Linked DNA regions of Homo sapiens: regions 1, 3 and 4 are each reported to be linked to region 2. The links are microRNA targets in miRTarBase. Many come from high-throughput screens and were not tested one by one. Region 2 holds a microRNA gene; each other region holds the end of a gene's coding sequence. Distances are between the middles of the regions.
Evidence for each region. Region 2 holds the annotated microRNA hsa-miR-548t-5p (CAAAAGUGAUCGUGGUUUUUG, at 2,627-2,647, opposite strand). A microRNA usually pairs through its seed, bases 2 to 8, with sites in the 3' UTR of a target mRNA and lowers its output. Matches are read on the target gene's strand: a 7mer-m8 pairs with bases 2 to 8, a 7mer-A1 pairs with bases 2 to 7 and ends in A, and an 8mer does both.

Region 1 (7,123 bases), 100 Mb from region 2:
GAAATGTTACTTTTGTTTCCATGTTGATTTGGTATCCTGCAACTTTTCTGATTTACTCCAACAGTGTTTTTTAAGCATCTTTAAGGGTTTTCAACATATAGGATCATATCATCTGCAAATAGGGATAGTTTTACCTCTGATTTAGATGCCTTTTATTTCTTTTACTTATTTAATTGCTCTTGCTAATCTTTCAAGTACAATGTTGAATAGAAGTGATTAGAGTGAGAATCCTCCCCTGATACCAGATCTTACTGGAAAAACTTTCAGTCGTTCCCCACTGATGTAATATTATCTGTGTGTGTTTTTTATAAATGACTTTTACTATTTTGAGAAACTTTACTTCTATACTTGAAAGTCTTTATTGGGAAAGATGCAGAACTTTGTTAACTTCTTTTCCTGCATCATTTGAAAGGAACATGTGGTTTTTAACATTCTCATAATTCACATGTCACATTGATTGTATATGATAAACCAGGCTTGCATGCCAGGGTTAAATCTCACTTGTCATGATGTATGTTCTTTTTGATGTGTTGTTTAGTTGTTTGCTAATATTTTATTAAAGATTAGTGTATCAATGTTCATTAGAAATATTGCCCTATAGCTATCTTTTCTTACAGTGTCTTTGTCTGCCTTGGATATGAAAGTGATTCTGATGCCATGAAATGTTTGGAAGTATCTCCTCTATTTCTACTTTTTGACCGAGTTTAAGAAGTATTGATAGATTCTTTTATGAACATTTGGTACAATTTGGCCATGAAACCTTCTGGTCCTGTGCTATTCTTGGTTGGAAGGTTTTTAATGACTTCTTCAACTGATTTGTTGGATTGGTTCAAGTTTTCTACTTCTTCCTGACTCAATCTTGGTAGGTTATATTTTTCCAGGAATTTATCTATTTTTTTCTAGATTATCCAATTTGTTGCATATATTTATAATAGGCCTTATAATACTTTACTTGTGAGGCATCTGGTGTAATGTCTCCATTTTCATGTTTGGTTTTATTTATTTGGGTCTTTCCTCTTTTTGTCATAGTCTAGCTAGTATTTTGCTGATCTTATTTTTTCAAAGATTACTTTTTTGCTTTTTTCTGTGTTTTTGTTCTCTGTTTTACTGATTTGTATTATTTTCCTCCTTTTGCTAACTTTGGCTTTAGTTCTTTTTCTAGCTTTTTGAGACATAATGTGGTATGTGCACTAGAAAAGAAATGTATATTCTGCTGTTCTTGGATGGAAAGTTCTGTATGTCTGTTAGGTCCATTTGGTCAAACCCAGTATTTGCTTAATTTTCTGTTTAGTTGAGCTATTCAGTGTTTAAGGCGGGGTACTAAGATCACCAACTATTATTGTACTGCTATCTATTTTTCCTTCACGTACATTTTTTTTTTTTTTTTTTGAGATGGAGTCTCGCTCTGTTGCCCAAGCTGGAGTGCAATGGTGTGATCTCAGTTCACTGCAACCTCCGCCTCCCAGGTTTAAGAGATTCTCCTGTCTCAGCTTCCCGAGTAGTTGGAGTTGCAGGTGCCCACCACCACACCCAGCTAATTTTTGTGTTTTTAGTAAAGATGGGGTTTTGCCATGTTGGTCAGGCTGGTCTCAAACTCCTCACCTCAGGTGATCTGCCCGCCTCAGCCTCCCAAAGTGTTGGGATTACAGGTGTGAGCCATCGCGCCCAGCCAATACTTTCTATATGTATTTAGGTGCTTTGTTATTGGGTGCATATATAATTCTTATGTCATCTTGATGAATTGGCCGCTTTATCATTAATGACCATCTTTGTTTTTGTAACAGCTTTTACCTTGAAGTTTCTTTTATCTAATGTATATTACGCCATCCCTGCTCTTTTTTGGTTACTATTTGTATGGATTTTCCCATTCTTATACTTCCAACTTTTGTGTGTTCTGGAAGCTGAAGTGGGTCTCTTTTAGGCAGCTCAGTTACATTGTTTTTTAATCCATTCAACCACTCTTTACTGGATAATTTAATTCATTTAAAATCAAGGTTATTATTGATAGGTAAGGACCTATTTTGCCATTTTAAAATTGTTTTCTAGTTGTTTTGTAGATTCTTTGTTCATTTCGTCCTCTCTTGTTGTTTACCTTTGTGATATGGTAATTTTCTGTAGTGCTAATAAGCTTTGTCCTTTATCATTGTTTGTGTATCTGTTGTAATTTTTTGGTTTGTGGTTACCATGGGCTTACATAAAATGTTACAGTTGTAATACACTATTTTAAGCTGGTAACAACACAGATCATATAGAATTATTCTAGATTTTTACCCTCTTCCCAACAATTTATATTTTTGTTGCCATAACTTACTTTTTTTTTTTTTTTTTGAGACGGACTCTTGCTTTGTCGCCCAGGCTGGAAGGCAATGGCACAATCTTGGTTCACTGCAACATCTGCCTCCCGGGTTCAGGCGATTCTCCTGCCTCAGCCTCTTGAGTACCTGGGATTACAGGCATGCGCCACCATGCCCCACTAATTTTTGTGTTTTTAGTAGAGGAGGGGTGTCACTATGTTGGCCAGGATGGTCTTGAATGCCTGACCTCAGGTGATCCACCCATCTTGGCCTCCCAAAGTGTTGGGATTACAGGCGTGAGCCACTGCACCCAGTCTTACATTTTTTTACATTGTATATTCCTTAGCTTTTCAGAGCTATTATTTTTGACTGTCTTTCAAATCTCCAGTATGAAGGTTACAAATGAAAATATTTAATAGTCAATAGTCTGTGTTTAAGACATAGTAGTATTTAAGATACATTTAATGTATTTATTAGTATTTAAGACAATAGTCAATAATCTATATTTAAGACACAGAAGAAACTGAAAGTGTAAGATTTAGAAACAAGAGAATCCCCACCCCAAAAAATTAGAGATTAAATGATCTACATGATAGATAACAGAATACTATGCATGGATTGCTTATACTCTAAGGATTCCTATTCCTACTATAAGGAACTTGGGGACTAAACTTGAGCCAGTTCTTTCCTGTGTGCCTCAATTTTAATATGTGTTTCAAACTGCATTTGGAATGTTTCCTACCCAAATAACAAAATCTTAAACATGAAGCTAAAATTATCCATGTGTGTCACAGTCACCCTTACGTTGGGTCAGGGAACTCTAGCTTGGTCAGTTAACTGCTGGCAACAGTTCCTTCTTCAATTCCATGCCCCTGAGGACTCTTAATGGTTAACATTATGACAAGACAGGATGTATGTGACCCTCAGAAAGACCACGACATTCTACAGCAGAATGTAGATATATCCAAGGGCAAGATGCCACACCTGTGATGGCAAAATACTCTGAAAAGTCAAACATTCAGGTGTTATAACTTGTATGAGATCCTGATTTAATGGACATCTGCTAAATTTCCTCTGTCCATGTCTTTTGGAGACTGTCCTTCCTGATGTAATCCTCACAGAGGTGACCATAACATGTGCCTCTCTTGCTTCCCAATGCTGGGAGACAAAGAACCCCATTTCCTTGGAAATACAGATTGGATTACGGCTGGCTCCAAAACCAACATGGCTATTCAGTCCTTTTGGGGAACTGACATGGACACTGGGAGGAAAATAGTCTCTCTCCTGCCACTGAAACTACATGGACAATGGAAGCTTGGAGATAATGGCCATTTTCTGAAAAATTAGACCATGCTTGAAAAAAAGCCATTATGGAGGAAATCATTATGGAGGAAATCAAATCCAAAAATTACATGCTTGAATTTTCACTCCTTTGAACTATTACTCCAGCCAATAAAATCCCTGACCGGATTTCTAAACTCGGAATGACTGAATTTTCTGTTTTTCATCTGAACACATCATACTAATGTAGATTGTTAGAATCACAGCACAGTGGAGTACACGAAAGAAACCATGTCTTCTCACAGTGACAAAAGCTGTCATGTGTACGAATATTAAATAAAACATACTGATTTTTATATACTGACTCTTCTGTACAGAAAAAAATCTTGCATTTTTTATACAATGTTCCGGTAAGTTTATTTTAAAAATTAGGAAAGGAGAAAACAGTGATGATTATGTGAGCCAACAGAATTGTTTAGAATAGTGCCAGATACTTGGTAAAAACTTAATGTTGGCTTTTTAAAATAGATCGACTCAATACTAAGCTCAACATACAAAGCATAACTTAACATCTAATTGGATGGCACTTTAGAAAAATCCTCTGCTTAAGCCTGAAGGAAATGTTAATGTTTAAAAATCTCAGGCCAGGTGCAGTGGCTCACGCCTGTAATCCCAACACTTTAGGAGGCTGAGGCAGGTGAGGTCACTTGAGGTCGAGTTTGAGACCAGCCTGGCCAACATGTTGGAACCCCATCTCTACTAAAATTACAAAAATTAGCGGGGTGTGGTGGTGGGTGCCTGTAGTCCCAGCCATTCGGGAGGCTGAGGCAGGAGGTTGCAGTGAGCCAAGATCATGCCACTGCCCTCCACCTGGGCGACAGACTCCATCTCCAAAACATTTATTAATTTATATACTGTTTTTTCAAAAGTGATGAGGTGGTTTAGAAACACCAAATAAAAACATGGGTAAAATCTTGGCCCATCAATTACTACCTTTCTAATCTTGGGCAAGTTTACTAGCCTCTCTGAGCCCATTTAAATGAGTCTGTATATAAAAGCACAAAGTCTCTATTGCATACAAAGTGCTCAGTATTTATTCCTATTATTTCAGGAAAATACCTTTAATATTACCTACCAGTTTTGTATAATGGTTACAGAAATTCTTAAACTGTAGCTATCATCTTGTCTAGCTTACTGATGAATACACAAAATGCCAATGAAGTGACTTACCATGTATCACTAACCGGTTTAATTAAAGACAATGACAAAACTAGAACCCAGGTTTCCTTAAAAGTACTTTTTCCTCTCTACCACAATGCAGATTTAAAACAAATCCTCAGGCTTTAGTTTTGTCATTGTAAATAAAACTTCTGTGAATGCAGGGAAAGATACTACATGCTGGTATGAATATGAATGCAGTATAACTATAGTTTATTATATCCTTTAAGAGTAAAGTGCCTGTGTTGTTCTTTTCAGGCCAATATAGATTAAATGTAAAACTGTACTATGTGATCTGGTACACAGTACAACTGTTGATACTATAAAAAAATCAAACATTCAAATATTCCTAATGTTTATAAAGGCCAAATTCCAAAGGCCAAAACTCCAGGTGTAACTCAAGAAAAAATTCAAAAAAATTATTTCATAAACTGTTTTCTTGAGCGGCTCTATTTCTATGTTATAGTTGGTTACCACTGGGAGAACTGGACAGTTAACTTAAAATACAGAACTAATACAAGAGGGTTAAAAGTCCATTTATGAAGTAAAGTAGAAAGCATGTACAAAGTCGTTCACTTACAGAAGACTAAAACAACAAATAGAAAACCTAAATAAACGATTCTGTGATCAGAGTAGACTCAAAATGTTATCAGGTGTATAAATACTTAACCAAATTATTAACATAACTCTGTGTATCTTATGTTAGAAATAGAAGTAAGCTTTTAATGCAACAGGCCTAGGTCAATCATTTCTGCTAAAGTGTGCCTCAAAAAAAGCAAATGGGGTTCCTAAAATTCCTGAACAAAAAGCATGCTTTTATGTCCATTATTGCATAATAAAACAAACCTGCAATTGGATAAGAAAAAGATACAAAAGATAACCGTCAATCTTTACCAATTTATTTTATACAAAACAGTAGCAATGTAGAATATGGGAATCGTCTTCCGCTGCCACGCACGCAAGTTGTGAACATTCCAAGCCAATGTATACAATTTGGAGGGGAAGGCTAAACAATAGCATCAACCACGCTACTGAACATAGGAATTTTTCATTTAAAAAGATTAAAAATTAGATAGCAATGTCTTCTTAATATTGCTCTCGTCATTGAAGACTGAGGAAAAATAAAAAGTGACTTTATAAGTTTTTTAAAAAAAGAGGCAATGGGGAAAAAAACAAGAGGCTGCTACAACACTGCCATACAGTCAAACCATCATACTTCAATATTTGCATACTCGATAGCAGCATTATTTTTACTGAACCGTGTGCAACTACATGTAGAAACACATCAAAGCAAAATATCATGGCAGTTATCAATCAAGATCCAAAAAGGAAAAAAACAAACAAAAAAATAACTCTAGGATGAACACACTATAAGAACATTTATGGAGAAAGAATCAGTATCTACATTCTTGGACTGTTCCATTCTGCCCCAATAAAAGTGTCAATTCAACTGTCAGCTGTGGATTTTTGGCGGATTTGAGTTTTTCCAGTTCTTATGATACTGCATGCTTGGAACAAAGGGGGTCATAATAAATCCTTCTACACAATGAACTTCATAGGCAGACAGCTGAAAATAAATTTACTACTTGTAAACACACACAAAAAAAAAATACAAGATTTTTTGTATCTTTAAACAATCAGTGCTTCCAAAAGCCCATTATCTTCTATATCGACCTCTCTCCCCTCGGTCTCTGTCTCGATCACATAATCGCTCTCTTTCTCTTTCTCTATCACGTCCTCTATCTCGCTCTCTGTCTCGTCTGTTATCTCTAGGGCGGTCTCGCTCTCGTTCCCGGTCTCTTTCACGGGGTCTACTTCTCCGGCCACTGACAACAGCTTGTGTGCGACGAAGGAAATCATCCACCCTCATATCATAATCATGCTAGAAAAGGAAAGAAATGTGTTAGGTATGTCAAAAAGGCAAATAGTGTTAAGTGGATCCCTGATTTGAAAAAAAAATTTATATAAACAATTTTAAAATATAAAAAAAGAAAAGTCTCTGTATTATAATCGGCGGAGAGAACAATCCAAAGAAATGCAATAATAAATTAATTCACAGAAGGTAATATGCTGACATGGTTTAGAAAAAGGATGATGCCTCATTAGACATCTACAACAGATTATTCAAATCTCTTTATGCAGTTTTCCACTTAACTTTAATGACTTTTCCATCTGATCCCTTCAGTAAGATTTAGGCCAAAGATATTAACTAGTGATGACCTTCAACTATTATCCATATATACTGCCAATTATGCTAAATGTCATCAATGTTTTTCTGGCACAGGCTAGCTCTACATTTTTCCTCCAATTCTACCAACTTCAATTTTACA
Region 2 (7,123 bases):
GCGGGAAAGGAAAACACAAACAAAGATACAAGAGCTCTGCTGGAAGAAATCTTTTACAAGGGCCAGTTGCCAACTTTTGGTGGTTTATAAATCCAAAGAGGAAAGCCAGAGCTTCTGAATTCCAGTATAATGTTCCAAATATTACTGAGTAAATATGTTTAATTATCACCACTTTAAAGCATTTCATGTGGAGGAAAAATTATATCTTTTGATGAAAAAAATCCATCAAAAACCTTAGAAATCCTAAATACTCTGAAGCAATTGAGATAGGCGTCCAAGATTAGCTTCACAGCACTGACCTCTATGGTGATCTTGAATACGAAAGCCTTCATAAAAGAAAGGAGGCTGTTTCCACAGCTTCCTCATTACCTAAGGTATTGGAATGCAGAACATCAATTATCCCCTAAAATATTCCCCAAAACACTTGTCACAAAAACAAGCATTTTTTTTTCAATCTTCAAAACTCAAGATTTCATAGGAGCAATTTGACTGAATCCCTCAGGTACCTAATGTCTCATTTTCTGAAGCTGATGTCAATCTGCTATATCTTTATTCTGGAGAGCACATGCAATTACAAGGGTTATTGCCACAGTTTAAAGGGAAAAACATTTCCCCTGTACCTCCAAATTATCCCACTTTAATTTCAAAGATTTCCCCATGAAATCATCCATATCTTCACATATTGCCAATAATAATTGCGCTATACTTCTGCAGAATGGTTAAAACCAGTGGCTATGGGTCCAAGTACACTTGATTATCTTTTTATATTTTTCAGGTTCTAGAAATATGCATACATTTATATCATCTAGTTCTTTCTTCACAGGACTTTTGTAAACGACTTCTCCCACAATCAGCTGATGAGGTGGGGTGTCTCTAGTTTTACTGGATATGAAACATCCTAGCATCATGACTGCAACTTTTGATCCTCAAGAAGCATTCCTTTTCCTGCATGATTATAAAATTGGACTTTATGGCCGTGGTCTATCGGAGTTTGTTGTATATTTCTTTGAGACCAAGATTGAAGTAAGAAACAGGTGCAATGACTACTTGGAAAGAATTTAAATTACTTCTGTTGAGGAGGAGGAGGAGGAGGGAAGATTAAATCTAAAATTATTAAGTATTCCTGAAAAAAGTCAAAGCTAGTTACCAGGATATTAAATAGATTCAATACAGCATCCAACCATTTAGGAAAGGTGATGCACTTGGGGCCTGAGGATATGATACTATCACATTTACGTGGTCATAAGGACCTTTGAAATTCAGATTAGGTCTGCTTATCAGCAGAGACTATTTCAGCACTAAATCTAATAAATATTCCAATCAGTGCAAAAGACCTCCTGTGTTCCATAGCTCATGTCACTAACTGCAGCAGCTTCTGTTGGGTACACCTTGGCATGATTCCAGCTGCCTTCCCAAGCCCATTTTAGCAGTTAGGTATCTATAAAAGGAGGTGGAAGATAAAGTGGGGAGGGGTGGGAAGGAGCAAGGAAAGATGAATTATGGGCGGAACATATAATAATAACTCGGCCACTTTATTTCTATTCCTTAAATGGAAAAACAAAATTTGATGCTTTTTGGTCTTCACATTTCTAAAAGCCATTATCAGATTTCATTTTTGAAATAAATTAACAGACAAAAAATATTTTGTTTTGTTCTGTGCCTCTGTTGTCTGAGTGCCCCTATAATAAGACATGCTTATCTGACAAACATCAGAGGAGCCATGCCCCTCTGAGAAACATCTTCACTGTTACTGAGATTTGGGTTTATTATAATGGGGTACTGGGCATTTTGCCCACTAACTATATAGTAAATATTTCTGTGATTAACCTGAGCCCCATACTAAATATACAAAAATTCAGTGGCTCCTTATTATTTGTGGATTCTACGTCCACAAATGTGGATTGCAATTGGAGATGCCTGATGGGCATGCACACGAGGATGTTCTGTTTCTTGTTTCTGCTCATAGAGTAAACAAGTGTCCGGGTGCGGTGGCTCACGCCTGTAATCCCAGCACTTTGGGAGGCCAAGAAGGGCGGATCAAGAGGTCAGGAGATTGAGACCATCCTGGCTAACACGGTGAAACCCCATCTCTACTAAAAATACAAAAAAAAAAAAAAATTAGCTGGGCGTGGTGGTGGACGCCTGTAGTCCCAGCTACTCGGGAGGCTGAGGCAGGAGAATGGCGTGAACCTGGGAGGCAGAGCTTGCTGTGAGCCAAGATGGCGCCACGCCTGGGCTACAGAGCGAGACTCCATCTCAAAAAAAAAAAAAAAAAAAAAAAAAAACGAGAGAGAAAACAAGTGTCCTATTTGCAGTTTGTTTGGTGCCACAGATTTTCTCATTTTTGTGCTTTTAGTTGGTAATTTTGCTGTTTAAAACAGCCTCCCGAGAATAATGTCAGTGTGCTACCTGGTATCCTAAGCACAAAGATGCTGTGCTGTGTCCTGTGCAGAAAATCCACGTGAGACAAGCTTTGTTTGGGTGCGAGTTACAGTGCTATTGGCCCTGAGTTCAATGTAAACCCATCAACGTTATAGGTAAAATAAAGTGTCTTTAAATAGATACATGCCTAAAACAAGGTTAGGTTGGTGCAAAAGTAATTGTGGTTTTTGTCATTAAAAAATTGCAAAAACCACGATCACTTTTGCACCACCCTAACATTTTTCTTCACTTCTCTTGACGCAAATTATAGATTCAATCACCCAGCACTTACAAGCAAGCATTTCTTTATCTTAGGTTGACCTTAAGAACTTCTTTGTATTTACTAACTTCCTTTAGGACTCCTCCTCTTTTGTAGTAAGACGGCAGGATGAAATACAATGAAGAGGGTACCATATTTTAAAGATAAGGCTGAATACCACACACCTGGCATGATGAGAGGCCTATACAGAAAAAAGAGCTTCTGAAGCTTCTCTATGCCACACAAGGGATGAAGGTGGCCTCCAACAACTGTGACCTCCAACCGGTGGAGCTCATGTGTGATATGCCTTTTATGTCCTTTAGCACATTTGTTACCCACAATAACTTTACAAGCCAAGTATTATTATCCACAATTGCTAGAAGAGGAAACCAAAGCTCCCTAAATGCTCAATATCATGCTCATCACTCTTTCAGCTCTGTATGGGATTCCCAAAGTGAACCTCATGTGTATTTATGAACTTGGCACTCTCGGATACCATGCAGCACCCCTCATTTTCTGTGAGCTCTGCTTGCTGAGGTGAAGACTCTGCTGCAAAGGGGCCCCTGGTCCTGTGAAGCTGGTCCCCCTGCTGTGCCTATTCTAAGGAATGGCCATTGCTGATGACATTTGCTGGTCTGTGCCCAGGCATGGTTTCCTGGCGCTGCAGAAGCCACTGGCTGGTAATCTGCCTATGGGTGTCCACAAACCCTCAAGTACAGAAATTTGCCATCCTTCAGTTTGACAGGCATTTTAATGGAATGCTCTTTCAGTGTATCTCCCTAGCATTCAGGTACGCGTTTCAGGGGCCAGGCTGGAGGGTGATCTAAGTGACAGGCATGGTACAATGGTAAATTTTGCCCATACCCTCAACACTGATCCTCTACTTCTAGGCCATACTAAGGTGGCTTTTAAAAATTAATATATGATAATAGTACCTATTTATGGGATACATGTGATATATGGATACATGCATATAATGGGTAATGATCAAAGCAGGGTATTTAGGATATGCACCACCTCAAACATTTATCATTTCTTTGTGTTGGGAACATCCCAAATATTCTTTTCTAGCCCTTTTGAAATACACAATACATTGTTGTTAACTATGGTCACCTGCTGTCCTATTGACCATTAGAACTTATTCCTTCCAGCTAACTGTATGTTTATAGCCATTAGCCAACCCCTCTTTATCCCACATCCCAGCCCTCCACACACACACACACACACACACACACACACACACACACACACACACACACACACACACCCTTCCCAGCCTCAGGTAGCCGTCATTATACTCTCTACCTCCATGAGATCAAATTTTTTAGCTTCCACGTGAGTGAGAACATGCAATACTTGTCTTTCGGTGCCTGGCTTATTTTTAACATAATGTCCCCCATGCTCATCCATGTTGCCGAAAATGGCAGGATTTTATTATTTTTATATCTGTTCTCTTATTAATAGTATAACTTCTTACAACTTAGATTTAAGCAGAGGCCCTTCTACATATAATTGGAATTTTATATGTCCACATTTAAAAAGAGTTACCTTGGGATTGATAACATACTTCTTTTGCTCCTAAGTAAAAATTTTTATTACTATAAAATGTTTCACAAATGTATCAAAAATACTACAATTAAAACTACTGCTCTGATCAACACACTTTCGTGCTCTTTTGTCTGGTATAGTGAAAGGTCGGTCCTAGAAGACCTGGATTCATTCTTCTCAGCCACTTAATTTAATCCTGGATGATCACATACTGTTTATACTTGGGATTCCTTATCCACAAAGTGAGGGATCTCTCACAGTACCAAGGAACCCCTCTGGCCCCCTTCAGTTCTAAAATTCTTTTCTTTTCTTTTTCTTTTTCCTTTTTGAGACAGAGTCTTGCTTTGTTGCCCAGGCTGGAGTACAGTGGTGCTATCTCAGCTCACTGCAACGTCCGCCTCTCGGGTTCAAACAATTCTTGTGCCTCAGCCTCCTAAGTAGCTGGGATCATGGCCGCACGCCACTAGGCCCAGCTAATTTTTTTGTATTTGTAGTAGAGACAGGGTTTCGCCATGTTGGCCAGGCTGGTCTCGAAATCCTGGCCTCAAGTGATCCATTTGCTTCATCCTTCCAAGGTGCTGGGATTACAGGCATGAGCCATTGAGCCTGGCCAGTTCTAAAATTCTATGACACATTTAATATATTATGAGCAAGGTTCTTGAAGCGTCCAAGCCATTCCCTTTAAAAGCTACCATGTGACTCCCAAAGTGCAATCTTATGCACTGGGCTCCCATCCATTCTGATAAGCAGTTTATCTGGGCCATTTGAAGACTGAGATGAAAGCAAAGCGCTAGACTCAGAAAAAAGAAATGAAAAAGGTAAAAACTCTGAAAAGACATGTGGAAGAAATTCAAGACAATCCCATATTGCTTCAGAGAAGGAAGAAGGGAGAGAGACAGGGTGGGGGGTGGGGGAGGGAGGGAGATTGGGGGGAATGAGGGGGTCTTGGGGGTGGAGAGACAGAGACAGAGAGAGAGAGAGAGAGAGAGAGAGAGAGAGATGCTTACGCCACCATCACTGCTAGTAAAACAGCTAGCATGTACTTGCTGCTTACCATGTGCTAGGTGGTGAGCTAAACATGTCACAAACCTGAGGTCATGTAGAGAAGGCTGGTAAGGGTAAAGGATAAGGAAATATACGGGATGATAAGCTTTTAGAACAAAAAATAAGTTTTCTATGTTCTAAAAGTCATGAATGTATATACAGAGATATGGGGAAAGACCATGACAACTATTCACCAAACAGTAGCTGGCTCTGGAAAGGTCACTTCTTAGTATGTCAGGCAAAATGGGTTTCCTCCACCCCTGGAGCTGGCACAAACAAAGGCTAATAGAGGAAGACATTCTCATAACAGGATTATATCCTGGAAATGCTAGCATGGTTGAGCTTGGCAATATAAAATGGCTGACTGTCCTCCAGCTAATCCATCTGGTCCCCTGCCTGCTCCTGGGGAAACCGAAGAAGGGCAAGCCTGGTATCCTGGCTGCGTCTGATGCTCTCCTTGCCAGGATGGGCACAGTGTTGAGTGGCTTGTACATGAAGCGCAAGTTTTGCCAAACAGTGCAAGTTGCTAAAGTGCTGGGATCAAAGCAGCATTTGCTTCTGCACCAATACTAGGTAGCCAAGTAAATAGATGCCACATCTATCATTATTTTCCAAAAAGAGCTGTCGCACCTGGCAGTGGCCCAAGGGCTGTGAAGCCACTCCCCCCTCCAGGATGCAGGAAGAGGCAATACCACAAAAGAAAGCATGCCACAAAGTTCAGGCTCGAGTGATAACAGCTGCACACCAGCTGCTTGCTGGCTGGTTCTATTCAGCTTTTTTATCTAGAGAAACAATTGTGGAACACCCAGGGGAGAATGTAGAAACACAGAAAAACTTAATTTTAAAATGAGAGAGACCTGGGAAAACATCTAGGTCTCAGGTTTCCAAACTTGTTGGAGGAGCCCACGGATTTAAAGAAGGTGCCAAGAACAAAAGCATAGAGTTGCCTAGGAAGTCACTTGAAAAAGGATTCTGGGGCTTCTTGTGGTTAAAACAAGTTAGAAAAATTGACGACTCCCTCTTTTTCAGATAAGAAAATTGAGACTCAGAGGATAATACGGAAGAGCAATACCCATCTAACCCTACTGTGTGCTCAGAGAACTCACACCGTATTGGGACAGAGATACAAGAATCAACACCACAGTGTGTAGACTCACACATTATACCTTATAATGGACACTGATGGGAAAAATAAGACAATTTATCATCTTGCAAGGTTGGCTTTGTCTTATAACATTTTGCCTGGTATCATAACCACTCATATCTTAGTTACTCTGGCTTTGGGTGAATTCTTCTGATTCCATTATATATCTGCTTAACGTTTTACAATCATTAGAATACAAACAGTAAGTTACTGCTTACTCAGGTATCATATAGCAGATATTTTTCTTTTGAAAAGGGAAGGGTGGAGGGGGTGGAAAAATCGAAATATGCCCTCAGGTTGGTATATTATTTTCCTACTGAAAATTTGGTCCTAAGACTAACTTTAAAACAATTATTTTGTCTATGTATATCACTACTTATTGATAAAAGTAACTTGCTAAAGGGGGAAGGCTTTGCGTGGAATAGCTTTGCAGATGTTCCAAACCAATGAGCTAGCAGTTTAGAACCTAGGTAATCAGACTAATGTCTGACCACAGGTATTCATCATGTAAATACCATTGATCTTATTTTATGATGTGTTTATATTTATCTTAGCACTATCTCTAGACTTTAAAAAATATGGACAACTTTTGGGAACCCTGTTCAATGAATTCTTGGCATTCCAAAAGCAATCATTACAAAATACTGATATTATAATAAAATACCCAACTAATAAATTGATGAACCTTGAACCCTTGGGTTTTGTTC
Region 3 (7,123 bases), not on the chromosome of region 2:
GGACTGGACTGGAAGGGTGGAGAAAAGTCGCAGTGAGGCCAGTGGCAGGAGCTCGCTCCCCTACCATCACCACCGAGGCCACTTGGGTGTCTCTCCGAATGACAAATATTGGGGCAGTGCTTTTCAAGAAGCACAGTCACATCCTTTGGTTCATTTGGTGTTCACCCTAAACTCGCAAGGTGGGCATAGTTACTCATATTTTATACATAAAAAACTAACACCCAGAAATAGGAAGTGATTAATCCGAGTTCACTAGCATCAGGTTTCCTTGGTTCTTTCGCAGGTGGTGCACTTTTCCACTATTACTGCTGGGGTCTGGGCGGGATTATACTTCAGAATTCAGACTGGAGGGTCACATTTTTTTGTTGTTATAAACCCTTCGTTAGCCTGTTTCTCTCTCTTGACCAGTCCCCGCAACTGCAGCCAGGAAATGTTTATTCTGGCCCAATGGATGTGGAACTGCTTTGAATTGTTAAGAACAGCACCGGGCAAAGCACTTCCAATAAGTTAACCCAACACATCCTCACAGCAATTCCCCGAGGTAGTTGCTGTCTTCATCCCATTTACAGTTAGTCACATAGCCAGTAAGTCCTGGAACCCAGATTTGAACCTAAGTCTTTCACTAACACAAAGTGATGATTATTTTTCAAATTTCACTTAATTTTAACGGTTCCCTCACAACTCCTTTTCCAGTCTCCCTCAGGTCTTACACTTGATTTATTCATTATGGTACTTCTGGTTTTTATTTATTTTTGAGGCAGAGTCTCACTCTGTCTCCCAGCCTGGAGTGCAATGGCACAATCTCAGCTCACTGCAACCTCCGCCTCCCAGGTTCAAGCTATTCTCATGCCTCAGCCACCCGAGTAGCTGGGCTTACAGGCATGCGCCACCATGCCCAGCTAATTTTTGTATTTTTAGTATAAACAGGGTCTCGCCATGTTGGCCAGGTTGGTCTCTAACTTCTGGCCTCAAGTGATCCACCTGCCTTGGTCTCCCAAAATGCTGCGATTATAGGCGTGAGCCACCACACCTGACCGGTACTTGTTTTTTAAAAAGTATGTGGTTTGAATCATGGTTATAAGTCTTTATAATCAGCTTGATTTTACTTTTGTACTGTCATATTTTATTTACAAAGCTTGCAACTTAAGCTTCATGTAGGTCTTTATAATGTGTTTTCTCCTCCTACCAGAAAGCAATAAAGGAGAAAGAGATTCCTATTGAAGGACTGGAGTTCATGGGCCATGGCAAAGAAAAGCCTGAAAATTCTTCTTGACCTTGACAGTCACCTTGAAGGATTTCGCAAGTCCAGAAATTGAGGACTCTGGATTTTTGTCAACTAACTCTGTGAACATAGCCATCAGATTTGATGAGGAACTTAGGAGAGAGGAGTTTTATTTCCTCCTTCGATGTTTTCCTCTCAGTTGTAAAAGATGAACTCTTTGAGATGATTTCTCACCTGCTGTGGTATCTTGCAGGAACTGTGTGCTAAAATTGAACAATTTTTTTGAGATTATGGTTGCAATACTTGGCGTGGAATCAGCTTTACATAAATATACCTTGTATGCAAACGATGATAAACTAGTCAGGATGAGCAGAGCTGCCTGACCTCTTGATTTCTGCTGCAAAAGACATATACACTGTACTGGGGTCACTATTTATGAAAGCAATTGGTTAGGACCTCTTTTTTTCCTCTCAGGGAACTAATGCTCTGAAAAGGGATCTGGGCACAACAGTTTCAGTGAGTGCTTTTGAGCACACTTTTATTTTTATATAGTAACTAATGGTTAAGATTGATGGTGGCCTGGATTAGCAAAGAGGAAGACAGCTTTTAACACAGTTCCCTGCCTTCACAAGAGGTGTCAGATTAAGATGTGAAAGCTGCAAGAATGTTGCAGTGAACACCATTTCAGAGCTCTCAGTGTGCAGTTCAGGAATTAAGATACTTGGAATAGCTGTGGAGGAAGAACCTAAATTGCAAAGATCTGCTATTGCCAGCTCTCAACCCAAGTCAGTGAATTGTCAACCTGCATATCCTAAAAATGTCAAAATGCTGCATCTGGTTAAATGTCGGGGTAGGGGGGAAGCTGAAGGTGCTCGCTTCATTTGCCTTGTTTACTCATCCTGCCCTGTAATGTCTGTAATCCTGAAGATGGAATAAATTGTAACATTTAGTTTCTATCATTATTTGCCTCTGGAACTCAGTGCATTTTATGGAACTATTACCCTGTTACCCTACAAACCTCATATATACAGTGGGGAGAGTTTTGTGTTTTGTAACTTAAAGGTGAAGAAAAAGTGACTTGTCTTAAGCTAGGTGGTACAGTATGGCAATCAGAAACCTCACATTTTTTTTTTTTGAGACAGTCTGGTTCTGTCACCCAGGCTGGAGTGCAGTGGCGCAATCTTGTCTTACTGCAAACTCCACCTCCTGGGTTCCAATGATTCTCCTGCCTCAGTCTCCCAAGTAGCTGGGATTACAGGCATGCATCACCATGCCCAGCTAGTTTTTGTATTTTTAGTAGAGATGGGGTTTCACCATGTTGGCTGGTCTTGAACTCTTGACCTCCCGAAGTGCTGGGATTACAGGCATGAGCCACCGCACCCAGCCAAAACCTCACTGATTTCTAAAATTTCCACAATAGGCTATACAAATACACTACGGTACCAAAAAAGGATCAGGAGAGCACTTACTTACCTCAGAATGTCACGTAATCCCCACAATTAATTGAGTAATTTGGTTTTATTAGATACCCAAAGTAGTATGAAACTTGAATTACAGGCCGGGTATGGTGGCTCATGCCTGTAGTCTTAACACTTTGGGAAGCTGGGATGGGCGGATCACTTGAGCTCAGGAATTTGAGACCAGCCTGGGCAACATAGCGAAACCCTGTCTCTACAAAAAAATTAGCTGGGTATGGTGGTGTGTGCCTGTAGTCCCAGCTACTCTAAAGGCTGAGGTGGGAGAATTACCTGAGCCTGAGAGGTGGAGACTGCAGTGAGCTGTGATTGTACCACTGCACTCCAGGCTGGGTGACACAGCAAGACCCTGTCTGAAAAATAAACCAAGAAACTTGATTTATAGAAGGCCCTAATTCTATTGTCTTTTCTCCACTTTACCAATTGCTACATCATATTTAATGTGACTTGTCCTTAATGTCATTTCAAAACATTCTTCATTTATATTTTATGACTGGCTAGGGTCCATTATCCAAGGATTATAAAAGATGTTTGGAACCCAGCCAAGGGAGGCCAGGCAGCAAGCTGAAGTATAATGCATCTGTCCTAAACTCAGACTGGCCACAACCAAAACAGCTCTATAGGGACTCAGAAGTGCAGGCTGTAATATTACAAAATGGCAAAGACAATGAGATTCTCTATTCCGTTAATTATTACAAAATGGCAAAGACAATGAGATTCTCTATTCCGTACTGTATATGCCTTACTTTTGCGTTACCAGTTTAATGTAATATAATATGAAATACCTTGTTGCCTCTTGAACCTTACCACGAAAGTGTTCCTTTGAGCCTTAAGAATAAACCAGCTGGCTGGGCGCGGTGGCTCACGCCAGTAATCCCAGCACTTTGGGAGACTGAGGTGGGCAGATCACCTGAGGTTGGGAGTTTGAGACTAGCCTGACCAACATGGAGAAACCCCATCTCTACTTAAAATACAAAAAATTAGCCAGGTGTGGTGGCACATGCCTGTAATCACAGCTACTCAGGAGGGTGAGGCAGGAGAATTGCTTGAACCTGGGAGGTGGAGGTTGTGGTGAGCCAAGATCATGCCATTGCACTCCAGCCTGGGCAACAAAAGCGAAACTCTGTCTCAAAAAATAAAATAAAATAAAATAAACCAGCTCTGGCCAGGCACAGTGGCTCAGACCTGTAATCCTAGCACTTTGGGAGGCTGAGGTGGGCAGATCACCTGAGGTTAGGAGTTCAAGACCAGCCTGGCCAACATGTGAAACCTTGTCTCTACTAAAAATACAAAAAAGTAGCCGGGCGTAGTGGCGGGCGCCTGTAGTCCCAGCTACTTGGGAGGCTGAGGCAGGAGAATGGCGTGAACCCGGGAGGTGGAGCTTGCAGTGAGCCGAGGTCCCGCCACTGCACTCCAGCCTGGGCGACAGAGCGAGACTCCATCTCAAAAAAAAAAAAAAAAAAAAAAAAATAATAATAATAATAATAATAATAATTGCCCTCTCAGAGTGGTTTTGTAACTACTACTACTACCATTTACTATCCATTAAAGCAGGATAGTTTTAATTCCACAGAAAAGCCAATAAGCAGAAATGTGTCACGCTCCCTTTGTTTCTCTTAAGATTTCTGACCCTACCAGCCCTGAAGGAGATTACCTCAAAGTAAGAACTTGACACATTCGAGGCCAGGCACGGTGGCTCACGCCTGTAATCCCAGCACTTTGGGAGGCTGAGGCGGGTGGATCACGAGGTCAGGAGATCGAGACCATCCTGGCTAACATGGTGAAACCCTGTGTCTACTGAAAATACAAAAAATTAGCTGGGTGTGGTGGCGGGTGCCTATAGTCCCAGCTACTCGGGAGGCTGAGGCAGGAGAATGGCTTGAACCTGGGAGGCAGAGCTTGCAGTGAGTGGAGATCGTGCCACTGCACTCTAGCCTGGGCAACAGAGAGAGACTCCGTCTCAAAAAAAAAGAAAAAAAAGAACTTGACATGTTCAAGAAAATTATGACTACAGGGAAGATTCTGCAGTAAATGCTAGTGGAATGGGACAGGAAAAAGATGAGACCCAGATCAAGCACTTCCTCTTGAGAAATACAGATACCTCTTTCAGGTGTAAATTGCAGGCATTCTGCTAGCCATTCAATGTCTTTGATATCTCAGGCCCGTCAAGGACCAATCTTTTGTTTTTTGAGACAGAGTCTCACTCTGTTGCCCAGGCTGGAGTGCAGTGGCACGATCTTGGCTCACTGCAACCTCCACCTCCCGGGTTCAAGCCTCTACACCCAGCTATAGGAGTGCGCCACCACACCCAACTAATTTTTGTATTTTTAGTAGAGACAGGATTTCATCATGTTGGCCCGGCTGATCTCCAACTCCTGACCTCAGGTGATCTGCCAGCCTCAGCCTCCCAAAGTGCTGGGATTACAGGCATGAGCCACCGCACCTGACCAAGGACTAATCTTGATGCTTAATTAGCACCACTCCACTTGGTCCCTTTATCCACATCAGGCACAATAAACCAAGAGGGGCTGTTATAAACACTTATTCAATGGGCTGAATTGGACCTGTAACACTAAACAGCAGCCTAGACCTTCACTGTGGAAACAGAAATAACTAATGCCAATTTCTTTTCAACTTGGACACTGACTTGAAGCTCAAATGCTAATTTCTGCGAAAAAACACAACCAAAGAAAGTAACTCTCAGCTCATGACCAATCTAAATTTAAGTTATTTATTTAAGCCATCTCCTGCCACAAGCAAAGGGATGGGAGACCAGTATACCAGTCATCATTTGATACAAGTAAAGAAGGTGAGCTTAAGGTCCCATATACTTTTTCTGGTCCATGTGCAGAGTAACGGTCCAAACCAGTGCTGTGGTCCCTGGTGCCCGGGTAGTGGTCCAGATTCTCTTTATTCATCTTCGTAGCCAGTTGGAAGTGGATTCACATGAGGGTTATGGAATAGAGTATGGTTACCATCTCCCCAGGGAAACGGCTGTGGAGTGAAGATGTCAGTTAGATAATTCCAGAAAATAATTTAGAAAGAACACCGTCATGAACTGCTTATAACGGGGTGACAGATCATATATAAAAACAAAATGGAAATTAGTCCTTTATCTACTGGTGTAGTTCAACCTTCCCATTATTTAAGGAGCTCTTATAACTACCAGGGGAGCCCTTAAAGTTATCCTGGCTACAGGACAGTTTTAATTCCAGAAACAAATATGGATGGCAGAAAATGCAAGCTCAAGTTAGTTACTCATCATCCTCTCCCTAGTAACTAGTATATCCAGTGCTGTGTTTATGAAAGTGTAATCCTCAAATCACCTATATCAAAATGGTGGCAGTATTAGGGGAGGGAGATGCTTAATTAAATGCAGATTTCTGGCACCATCCCAGACTTCAAACAATATCTGGGCTGGGAAACTGCAGCCCACCCTGAATTATCTTGCCTATTACCTTTGAAAAGCATTACTTTAGGGCAACGGTCTCCAACCCAGGGTGATTTTGCCCCTTCAGGGCACACTGGGTAGTATCGGGAGACACTGTGATGGGGGCGGGGGAGGGGGAAGCGGGAGTGGGGTTGCGCAGGTACTACTGCCACCTAGTGGGTACAGGCCAAGGATATGGCTAAACATTTCACAATGCACAAGATAGCCCCCCAACAAGAATTACCCAGCCCCAAATGTCAACAGTGCTGAGGCTGAGAAACCTTTACTGTTTGGCTTCTAATTGCATTGTACAAGGATGGGAGTGCCGCTCAAAGACTCAACAAATTCAAGAGTCTAGGTTAAGTTTCTACAAGGCCAGTCCTATATGGGCTAGGTGATGTAATAATAATAATAATAATAATAACTTTTTTCATCACTTCTCGGCCTTTTGGCTAAGATCAAGTATATTATTACTATTTTTTTTTGAGACGGAGTTTCACTCCTGTTGCCCAGGCTGCAGTGCAATGGCTGGATCTTGGCTCACTGCAACCTCCTCCTCCTGGGTTCAACCTCCTAGATTCTCCCACCGCAGCCTCCCGAGTAGCTGGGATTACAGGCGCCCGCCACCACGCCCGGCTACTTTTTGTACTTTTAGTAGAGATAGTGTTTCGCCATGTTGACGAGGCTGGTCTTGAACTCCTGACCTCCGGCGATCCACCCACCTTGGCCTCCCAAAGTGCTGGGATTACAGGCGTGAGCCACCGCGCATGGCCAGTATTGAAGAATCAGAATAAGCCCTTGTTAAAGATACAGCAAACAACAGAGGACACAACATTGTAATATATCTACATCAACAACCAATGATAAAACAGTCGAGAAAAGGTATTGGTGGGGAATAGAGAAAGCTGTCAGTCTCTTCATTATGCAACTAGTAGCTGCCAGATGCCCATGTTTTGTTGTTGCTGTTTTGTTTTGTTTTGAGACCAGAGTCTCGCT
Region 4 (7,106 bases), not on the chromosome of region 2:
TCAACCATGTGGCAAAGAATTATACCCACTGAATTCTTACCATTTACTCCTCTATATTTTCAGGACCTCAGGCTCTTAGGCAGAGCCATGAGACTACTTAGGGCCAATGAAATGGGAGAATAGACACATGGCACTTCCAGGCTGAGAAAGAGAAAAGCTCTTTTGCCATTCTCAGGGCATTTCCTTTCTTTGCCCCAGCAACCAATATTAACGATGAAAGTTCCAGGTGGTGCCACTTCAAGATGGTGGAGCCTCTGTCAGCCTGGATCCCTGAAAGACTATGTGGAACAGAGCCATAATAGATATGTAAGTGAATGAGAAACAGACCTGTGTGTTATGAAGCCATTGAGATTTCAGGGTTAATATGTTATTTAAGTATAACTTAACAAATCACATTCAAGGTACATAGCTCTGTGTTCTGAAAGTCTGTTTTGAATTTCAATAAGTAAGTGATGAATTACTTAAAATTATTCTCTTTGGAGACTCAATAAAAAAAAACATGCTATGGCTCTTTAAACTATACTCCTAAAACTTTACACATAGAACATTCTGCTTCAATGTAGAGTTAACAGTTAGGTAAGGAGTTAATGATGTAGGAGGGGTGGACAATCGCATTGGTCTCATTGCTTCATCCCTTCAAACAACAAAGTTCTAGAAACAATTTCATTTCAGTCCAACACACTTTATTCATTTTTAACTTTTTTCTTAATTTTCAATAATCAAGTATTCAAGATGCTGTAAACCAAGATTAGTACATCGACAACAGATTTCATTAAACACACGGAAATTATACATCTTTTAAATTACCTTAAAAAGTCTCCAAATGAATATCATTTTAAAAATCACAAAATCAAACTTCTTTATGCAACAGTGCAAAACCTTTCATCACAAACATACCTCTACACAAAACACACACACACACACACAAACACACACTCCACTAAGAACCTAATGCCAGTTTAGTTGACACAGTATTACATTTCCTTAAACAAAAGAGTCAGAGCCTGACTTGCCTGTTTCAGGATTCTAAATTAACATTTGGGGTTTGGGGTAGAGGTATGTATTTTAAGAAAAATGCCCATTATTTGGTACTACTCTTACCAATTATCAATTACCAATTGCCAATAATCGGTACTAGTCTTACCAATGATTCTTATTTTTCATTTCTAGATACAAACTTTAAACCTCTTTTGTTCACCCCTTTGGTTTAATGTGTCCCTGCAATTACTTTAGTTTCAATAATATTTTCTCCTTCAATTTTAACATGTAGTGATAGGATACCAGAAAAGATAACACCTTCAAAACCCCAGTGTTAAAAATACCTTACATGGGTGTAATCTTTTTGGAGAAGAAATAAGAAAAGGTTACCTGAAATATTTTTTCTACCTTTCTCTGAAATTATTTTTGGCATCTGATTATTCTTGCTAAAATAAATATCAAAAGCACTGAGTATTCCATAGAAAAGTATCCCCCCTTTCACGCTTCATTTTTGCAGCATAGATGGAGTAACTGTTGAAATGAGAGTAATGGATGCTTGTTTTCTGGAAAATTCTTCAGATTTCCAAACACAAAGTACATGCAGCCACTTAGCAGTGAAATACTGTGAATTCAGTGGCGCTTTTTAGTGGTGAACATGCGTCATTAAATACTTTTTAGCACCAAGGCATTTTTTTTAATGTTGCAAAAGCAAACACCTAGGGAGGGTTTTTTGTTTTCTGTTTTTTGTTGTTGTTGTTGTATTTGACCCTTCCTAGAGCTGAGTAAAACTGAAGTCTTTAAAATAAAACCTCCTCAAACATACACAGATCTGATTCTAATGCAACAAGAAGTTTGGGACAGATACAGCCAGCAGCATCCCAAAAGATGAAGAAGAGAAAAAGACAAAAAGATAAAGTGCATGAGGCAACTACCTTTGCCTGCCAGCCGCAGCACTCTCTTATTATGGAAGAGAAAACACAAATGTGTGGAAAGGCTACCTACTGGTCTGTATAACAGAGAACTAGCAAACCTGCAGTTTAGGCAATTCTGGGATTATACAGTATTTTGGTATCTATCTGCTACTTAGAATACTCAGTATGCACCTACATATCAATAGTTATATTCATGTGCTGTGTCATCTCTGATGTTTTAAGTACATACACGATCACAAAATATAATTGGCTACCACCCGAGGCTTGGGCTTGCCTCCTGCTCCTGGGTGCACTAGGGAATTCCCATCAATGCTTCAGCTCCATCCAAACTCTAAAGTTTCTCTTTGGTACATGCACGGTTTCTACAAAACAGGGCCAAAAAGACACTTTCTGGCTCCAAGTGCACCAAAGAGCGCAAGCTGGAATTGTGGACTGAAGAAGAATTTTCTTGGTGGTTGGTGAACATGGAGGACCACCATGACATCCATGAGGCCTTACTCCATGTAACTCCCCCTTCTCTGAAGGCTGACATTTCCAAGTGCATGCCACTAAAGGTAACAATGTCACAGCGACTAAAGGGAACAATCGGGATCAGTGGTTTGATATGTATTTTATGTGTGTTCACTTAAAACCCTTATTAGGAATCTTAAAACTCATATTCATCAAAAAACTAATAGAGATGTTAATATTCTGAAAGAGGAAAATAAAAAAAAATACACTTGAAATCCCTAAAGCTCAGATTCAACAAATCTGAACTACCTTTCTTCATAATGTTTCATTTCAGAAACTCTGCCGAGACCCGATGTTAACACGAAGACTAGATTTGTTCTGTATTAAATATGAACTATAAATAAATATTTGAGGTATGTTATGACAAATAACTTTAATATAACACTTAGCTAAATAAATGTAAATTTACCTTGAAAATCTAGTTAAACATTAAATCTTGATATTTCCTACAGATGTTTCCTACAGTTTTTTTTATTTACACAAAAAAACCTCTCTACTCTTCATAAACGGTAATATATCAAAAAATTGAAATGCTTTAATCTCACGATTTTATAGTCACCTTGCCTTTGTTAACCAAAAGCTATTGTATACATTGCGTAGTGTAAAAAATGAATAATGGAGTGAGAGAAATCTATGTCTGAATCCTGACTTTACCATTCTGTATGATCCTAAATGAGTTATTTTACTTCTCTGAGTCTTGGTTTCATATGTTTTTTAAAAAAATAATAAAATCAGCCGGGCATGGTGGCTCATGCCTGTAATCCCAGCACTTTGAGAGGCCAAGGCAGGTGGATCACTTGAGGTCAGGAGTTCAAGACCAGCCTGGCCAACATGGTGAAACCCTCTCTCTACTAAAAATAGAAAAAAAATAGCTGGGTGTGGTGGCACACACCTTAATCCCAGTTCCTCAGGAGACTGAAACAGGAGAATCACTTGAACCCAGGAAGCGGAGGTTGCAGTGAGCTGAGATTAAGCCACTGCACTCCAGCCTGGGTGACAGAGCAAGACTCTGTCTCAAAAAAAAAAAAAGAATCAAATCTTTGCAAGGTAATTAAGAGGATCAAAATGAATGATGATGTATATTAAGTGCTTGTCAAAATGCTCTACAAATCGTCAACACTCAACAAATGCTAATTTTTTTCCTCTCTGTTCCTCCTTTCTCTCCATCCCCAACACCTTGACTCTGAATTACTTTTGAATATTTTCAAGAATTAAATCCACCTATAAAGAATAAGGACTTAATGCTAATGAAAATAACCAAAGAATGCGCTCCAACCACCCATCTTACCTCCTGGGAGTTTCTAAATTAATAGGATGAACTCAAGGATATTGTATTTGCATATTAAAGCTAAATAATATATGAATTTACAGTTTATAAAGGACAAGATGACCTTTTCCAAAACAAGTAATTTGAAGCCTAAGCTCATGGAGAGTCTTCATTAAAACTTCTAATAGGAGCTGTGACTATAAAGTAATGGGATCAATTTATTAAGAAACATATAAGACCCTATATATACAATTAAATGGTATCATCTACAAAACAGTCACTTCAGTTGGCTATGTAATATTCCAGTGATGCTACCATAGCCCCAAGTATTTTGTGAACCACTCTTAATTGGTACATATTCCAAAGCTTTATTTTCTCATGATTTTTACTACTTAGTCTACATTCACCAACAACACATTAATGAAATACCTGCTATTTATAAGGAGCAGATACTTGAGGAAGTACAATATTAACACTGTGGTGCACATTTCAGGCCCATTTCTTTGAGTTCTGGCCCAATCATCCCAAAGGATTTTATGGAGTGGCAGATGGTAATCAGGTAATATGACACCTGAAGATACCTGGCACCTGATCAGTGATCGCCAAACTGGATGACTGTTCATGGCAGCAAAGGGAGTAAGGGGGCTCTCTAACTACTCCGTGCTGAGTCCAGCAATCTTAGCTACCAGAAAAAGTGCCAATCCCACCAAAATTCTCTCAATGCAGTATCTTAATGATCAGAAGAAAATTAAGAAAACACCACACCTCTCCAATCTACATATCTTTAACTCCCACACCAAAGGAAAATTTCTCCTTTAAAGGATCAGAGCTCTCCCATAGAGGGTAAAGGGGAACCCTGAGGCCCCAAAGGAGACACTAGTTCAATCAGCAAGGTTTTCTTAATCAGCAAGATTTTTTGAATACTTCCAATATATGCCACATTGGCCAGAGTCTGACAATTACCAGTGCAATTACAGTCTTAACCAAGCAAGAATCCTCACCTCCCCGAGAGCCAAGCCCAGGAACCAGAGGGAAGTCCTTAGCCCCTGAGACCACTAGCTCCACCCCTTGTAGACATTGTTCAGTCTAACAGTGTTAACACAAACTGTATGCAACCAAGAGAACTGTTTGACCAATGTCATTCCTAGGAAGAGAGGGAAACAGCCTTATACCCAGGAGTATTTGCACAATTCCACCTGTGCAGTCAAGCAAGGTTGGAGAGCAGAAGCCTGAATCATGGAACAGTCTGTCAATCACATCTCTTCTGGGGATAAGGGTAAACCAGAAGAGAAAAACATTTCCCTAATTAGCCCTCCATGACCATAGGCTCCTTGGCAGAAAAAGTTCACAATTATATCAGCATTTGGCCCTTACACTCCCTGGCAGCCAGAACCCCTGAGCTAACTTGCTGTCAATCCGTTAGCGCCGTCAGGAAGCATCTATCTTAAGAGCCATGTAGAAAGCATTCTCTATGATGCTTACTTCAAAGTGATGTGCTGGGAGGTACTGAAAAGAATGATGGGTAATGAACCCAAAGTGCATTTAGGAACAGAAAAATCCTCTCTCAGAATCACTGCCAGAAACTTACAGTAAGGGGGAATCAAAGGGTAGTGTAAAACGATTCTATCTCTGATAAAGTAGGGTTCTTTCGGATGGACTGGTTTATTTTACATAATTTTCAACAATTACTTAAGATCATATTCTGTTCCAGAACACAGATCTCCCTCCTCCTGTATTCTAAGTGATTTTCATATCCCAGGCACAGATTTCCTGATATAAGTATGCATTTTCAGGAGCAACCACAGCAATTTTCTGTCCAGAAAAAAAGAAAACCACACAGATTTGCCAGTGCTTTCAAGATGTAACTAAAATACTCAGGTGGGACTTTTCCCAGTGACTTTGTGGGCCCGTAGAGCTAAAGAAAATTTCTGCAACAATTTTCTTGGATGAGAAAGCTGTCATTTTCTTTCCCTATTATGCATTTCAAATTACAGTTTCTAGCCATATTGTTTAGCACACTAGTTTTAATGCTCCTTACAAAAGAATACTGGAGTTTATATTTAAGCTATCAGATTTATGATTCAGCAGCCTCTTTATCTTAGGATGGGGCAGGCAGACTGAAAGAGAATGTGTCCTACGACCTGAAGTAGCTGTTCCTTCTATCACACTATGCCTATGGTTCCTCTGAAGCATTTGAAAAACTCTACCTGATTTATAACTGCTATGGCTTAAAATGCTATCAACAGTACTGGATGGAAAGTTCAGCTTCCTCTTTTCAGAAACATATCTGCTTTATTCCGTGAAAGTAAATGTAACATGCTGCACATACATTTTTCCAATCAAATTGCATAGTTGAGACAAATTCATTTGTGCTTTGTAGCAGAACTCACAGTAGGTGTTCATATCTAAAAACTTTGATTTGGAAATGCCAAGTCCTGGGCAAGCTCACCTTTGTTTGGAGTGTTAGTTAATGATATGCACCGCCATTCCCCTTCCCATGGTTTTGCTAACCGTGTACCTCAGCCTGTACCGTAGGGGAGCATGAGCTTTGAATTAACACAACGGAAATGGGAACAAATCTAGCTGAACGTCTCCTTCTTGGAGAGAAGCGGGGAAAGGCTCTCAGTCTTGTTGAGGTATCCAGCCCTCAATGAATAGCGGCTGTGTATACTGAGTTTTGTTGGTTTGAGGATTGTGTCTGTAGAGGTTAAAAAAAAGAAAGAAAGAAAAGAAGGCACAGTTGTTTCTCAAGTCGCCATTTTCAATTCAACCAACAAAACTAAATTCTTCCATTTTCAAGCTTCAGGAGGGCGGCTCCAAGGCAGCGGGGCTCTCTTCCAGCCCCGGGTCCGCAGAGGAACTTATTGCTTCTGGGAAGGGCCCCGGGTAGGTCTGTGCTGCGCACTGGATCCCTTTTTGCAGGCCAGTCTCTTCGTGGAATTCTCCCTGGGTGCTGAAAGCTGGGCAAGATCTAGTCCGGGCATTGTCGGGGTGTCCCACTCTCTCACTCACGGTGCTCAGGGGAAATTCTCTCTGCCTCCGCCTCTGCAGTCCATCCTCCTTGTATTTTATGGAGTACCAGGCCAGAAAAATAAAAATAAACCCAACGAATTTGAGGCCGGCAGCCAAACCAAAATACACAAAACGAAACGACGTCACGTTGTACTCCCAGCAAGAACCCTGCACACCACATTCCTGTTGCCAGAGCATGCAGGTGGTGTCAATGACTGCTCCAAAGTAGATTGGAGTAGGAATGTATGCTAGAGGGGTGGAGAAGAAGAAAATACGAAGACTTAGCACATCTTCCAAGGGAAAACAGGTTTGTAAATTAGCAAGGTACTTGTGTGCTCTAAAACCAGTTGAGGGGAGGGATTTTCTTGTGTTACCAGATTTTTTTTAAGACGCATCATATTTTATCA

Region 1: miRTarBase lists YTHDC1 as a target of hsa-miR-548t-5p. Seed matches in the 3' UTR shown: 8mer at 6,227-6,234, 7mer-m8 at 5,918-5,924, 7mer-A1 at 5,320-5,326, 7mer-A1 at 4,864-4,870 and 7mer-m8 at 4,500-4,506.
Region 3: miRTarBase lists TRIAP1 as a target of hsa-miR-548t-5p. Seed matches in the 3' UTR shown: 8mer at 1,756-1,763.
Region 4: miRTarBase lists SLCO5A1 as a target of hsa-miR-548t-5p. Seed matches in the 3' UTR shown: 7mer-m8 at 4,378-4,384.

What each region holds. Positions count from the first base shown.
Region 1 is chr4:68,307,649-68,314,771 of GRCh38, forward strand. It overlaps YTHDC1 (YTH N6-methyladenosine RNA binding protein C1), which reads right to left. Exons shown (of 17, transcript NM_001031732.4): 17 at 2,739-6,675. The coding sequence ends at 6,451. Among named protein-coding and RNA genes, the nearest start is that of YTHDC1, 39 kb to the right of the region's middle.
Region 2 is chr4:173,263,693-173,270,815 of GRCh38, reverse strand. It overlaps MIR548T (microRNA 548t), which reads right to left and starts at 2,656; the gene lies at 2,583-2,656. The region is part of intron 2 of GALNT7 (polypeptide N-acetylgalactosaminyltransferase 7); the gene reads right to left. LOC124900812 (a long non-coding RNA gene) reads left to right here. Exons shown (of 3, transcript XR_007058367.1): 2 at 1-6,488.
Region 3 is chr12:120,439,022-120,446,144 of GRCh38, reverse strand. TRIAP1 (TP53 regulated inhibitor of apoptosis 1) reads left to right here. Exons shown (of 2, transcript NM_016399.3): 2 at 1,190-2,181. The coding sequence ends at 1,273. COX6A1 (cytochrome c oxidase subunit 6A1) reads right to left here. Exons shown (of 3, transcript NM_004373.4): 3 at 5,415-5,691. The coding sequence ends at 5,608. It also overlaps the pseudogene LOC124903126. Among named protein-coding and RNA genes, the nearest start is that of TRIAP1, 3.8 kb to the left of the region's middle. RefSeq lists enhancers at 1-6, 1-420, 1-579.
Region 4 is chr8:69,666,380-69,673,485 of GRCh38, forward strand. SLCO5A1 (solute carrier organic anion transporter family member 5A1) reads right to left here. Exons shown (of 10, transcript NM_030958.3): 10 at 667-6,947. The coding sequence ends at 6,490. Among named protein-coding and RNA genes, the nearest start is that of SLCO5A1-AS1, 160 kb to the right of the region's middle.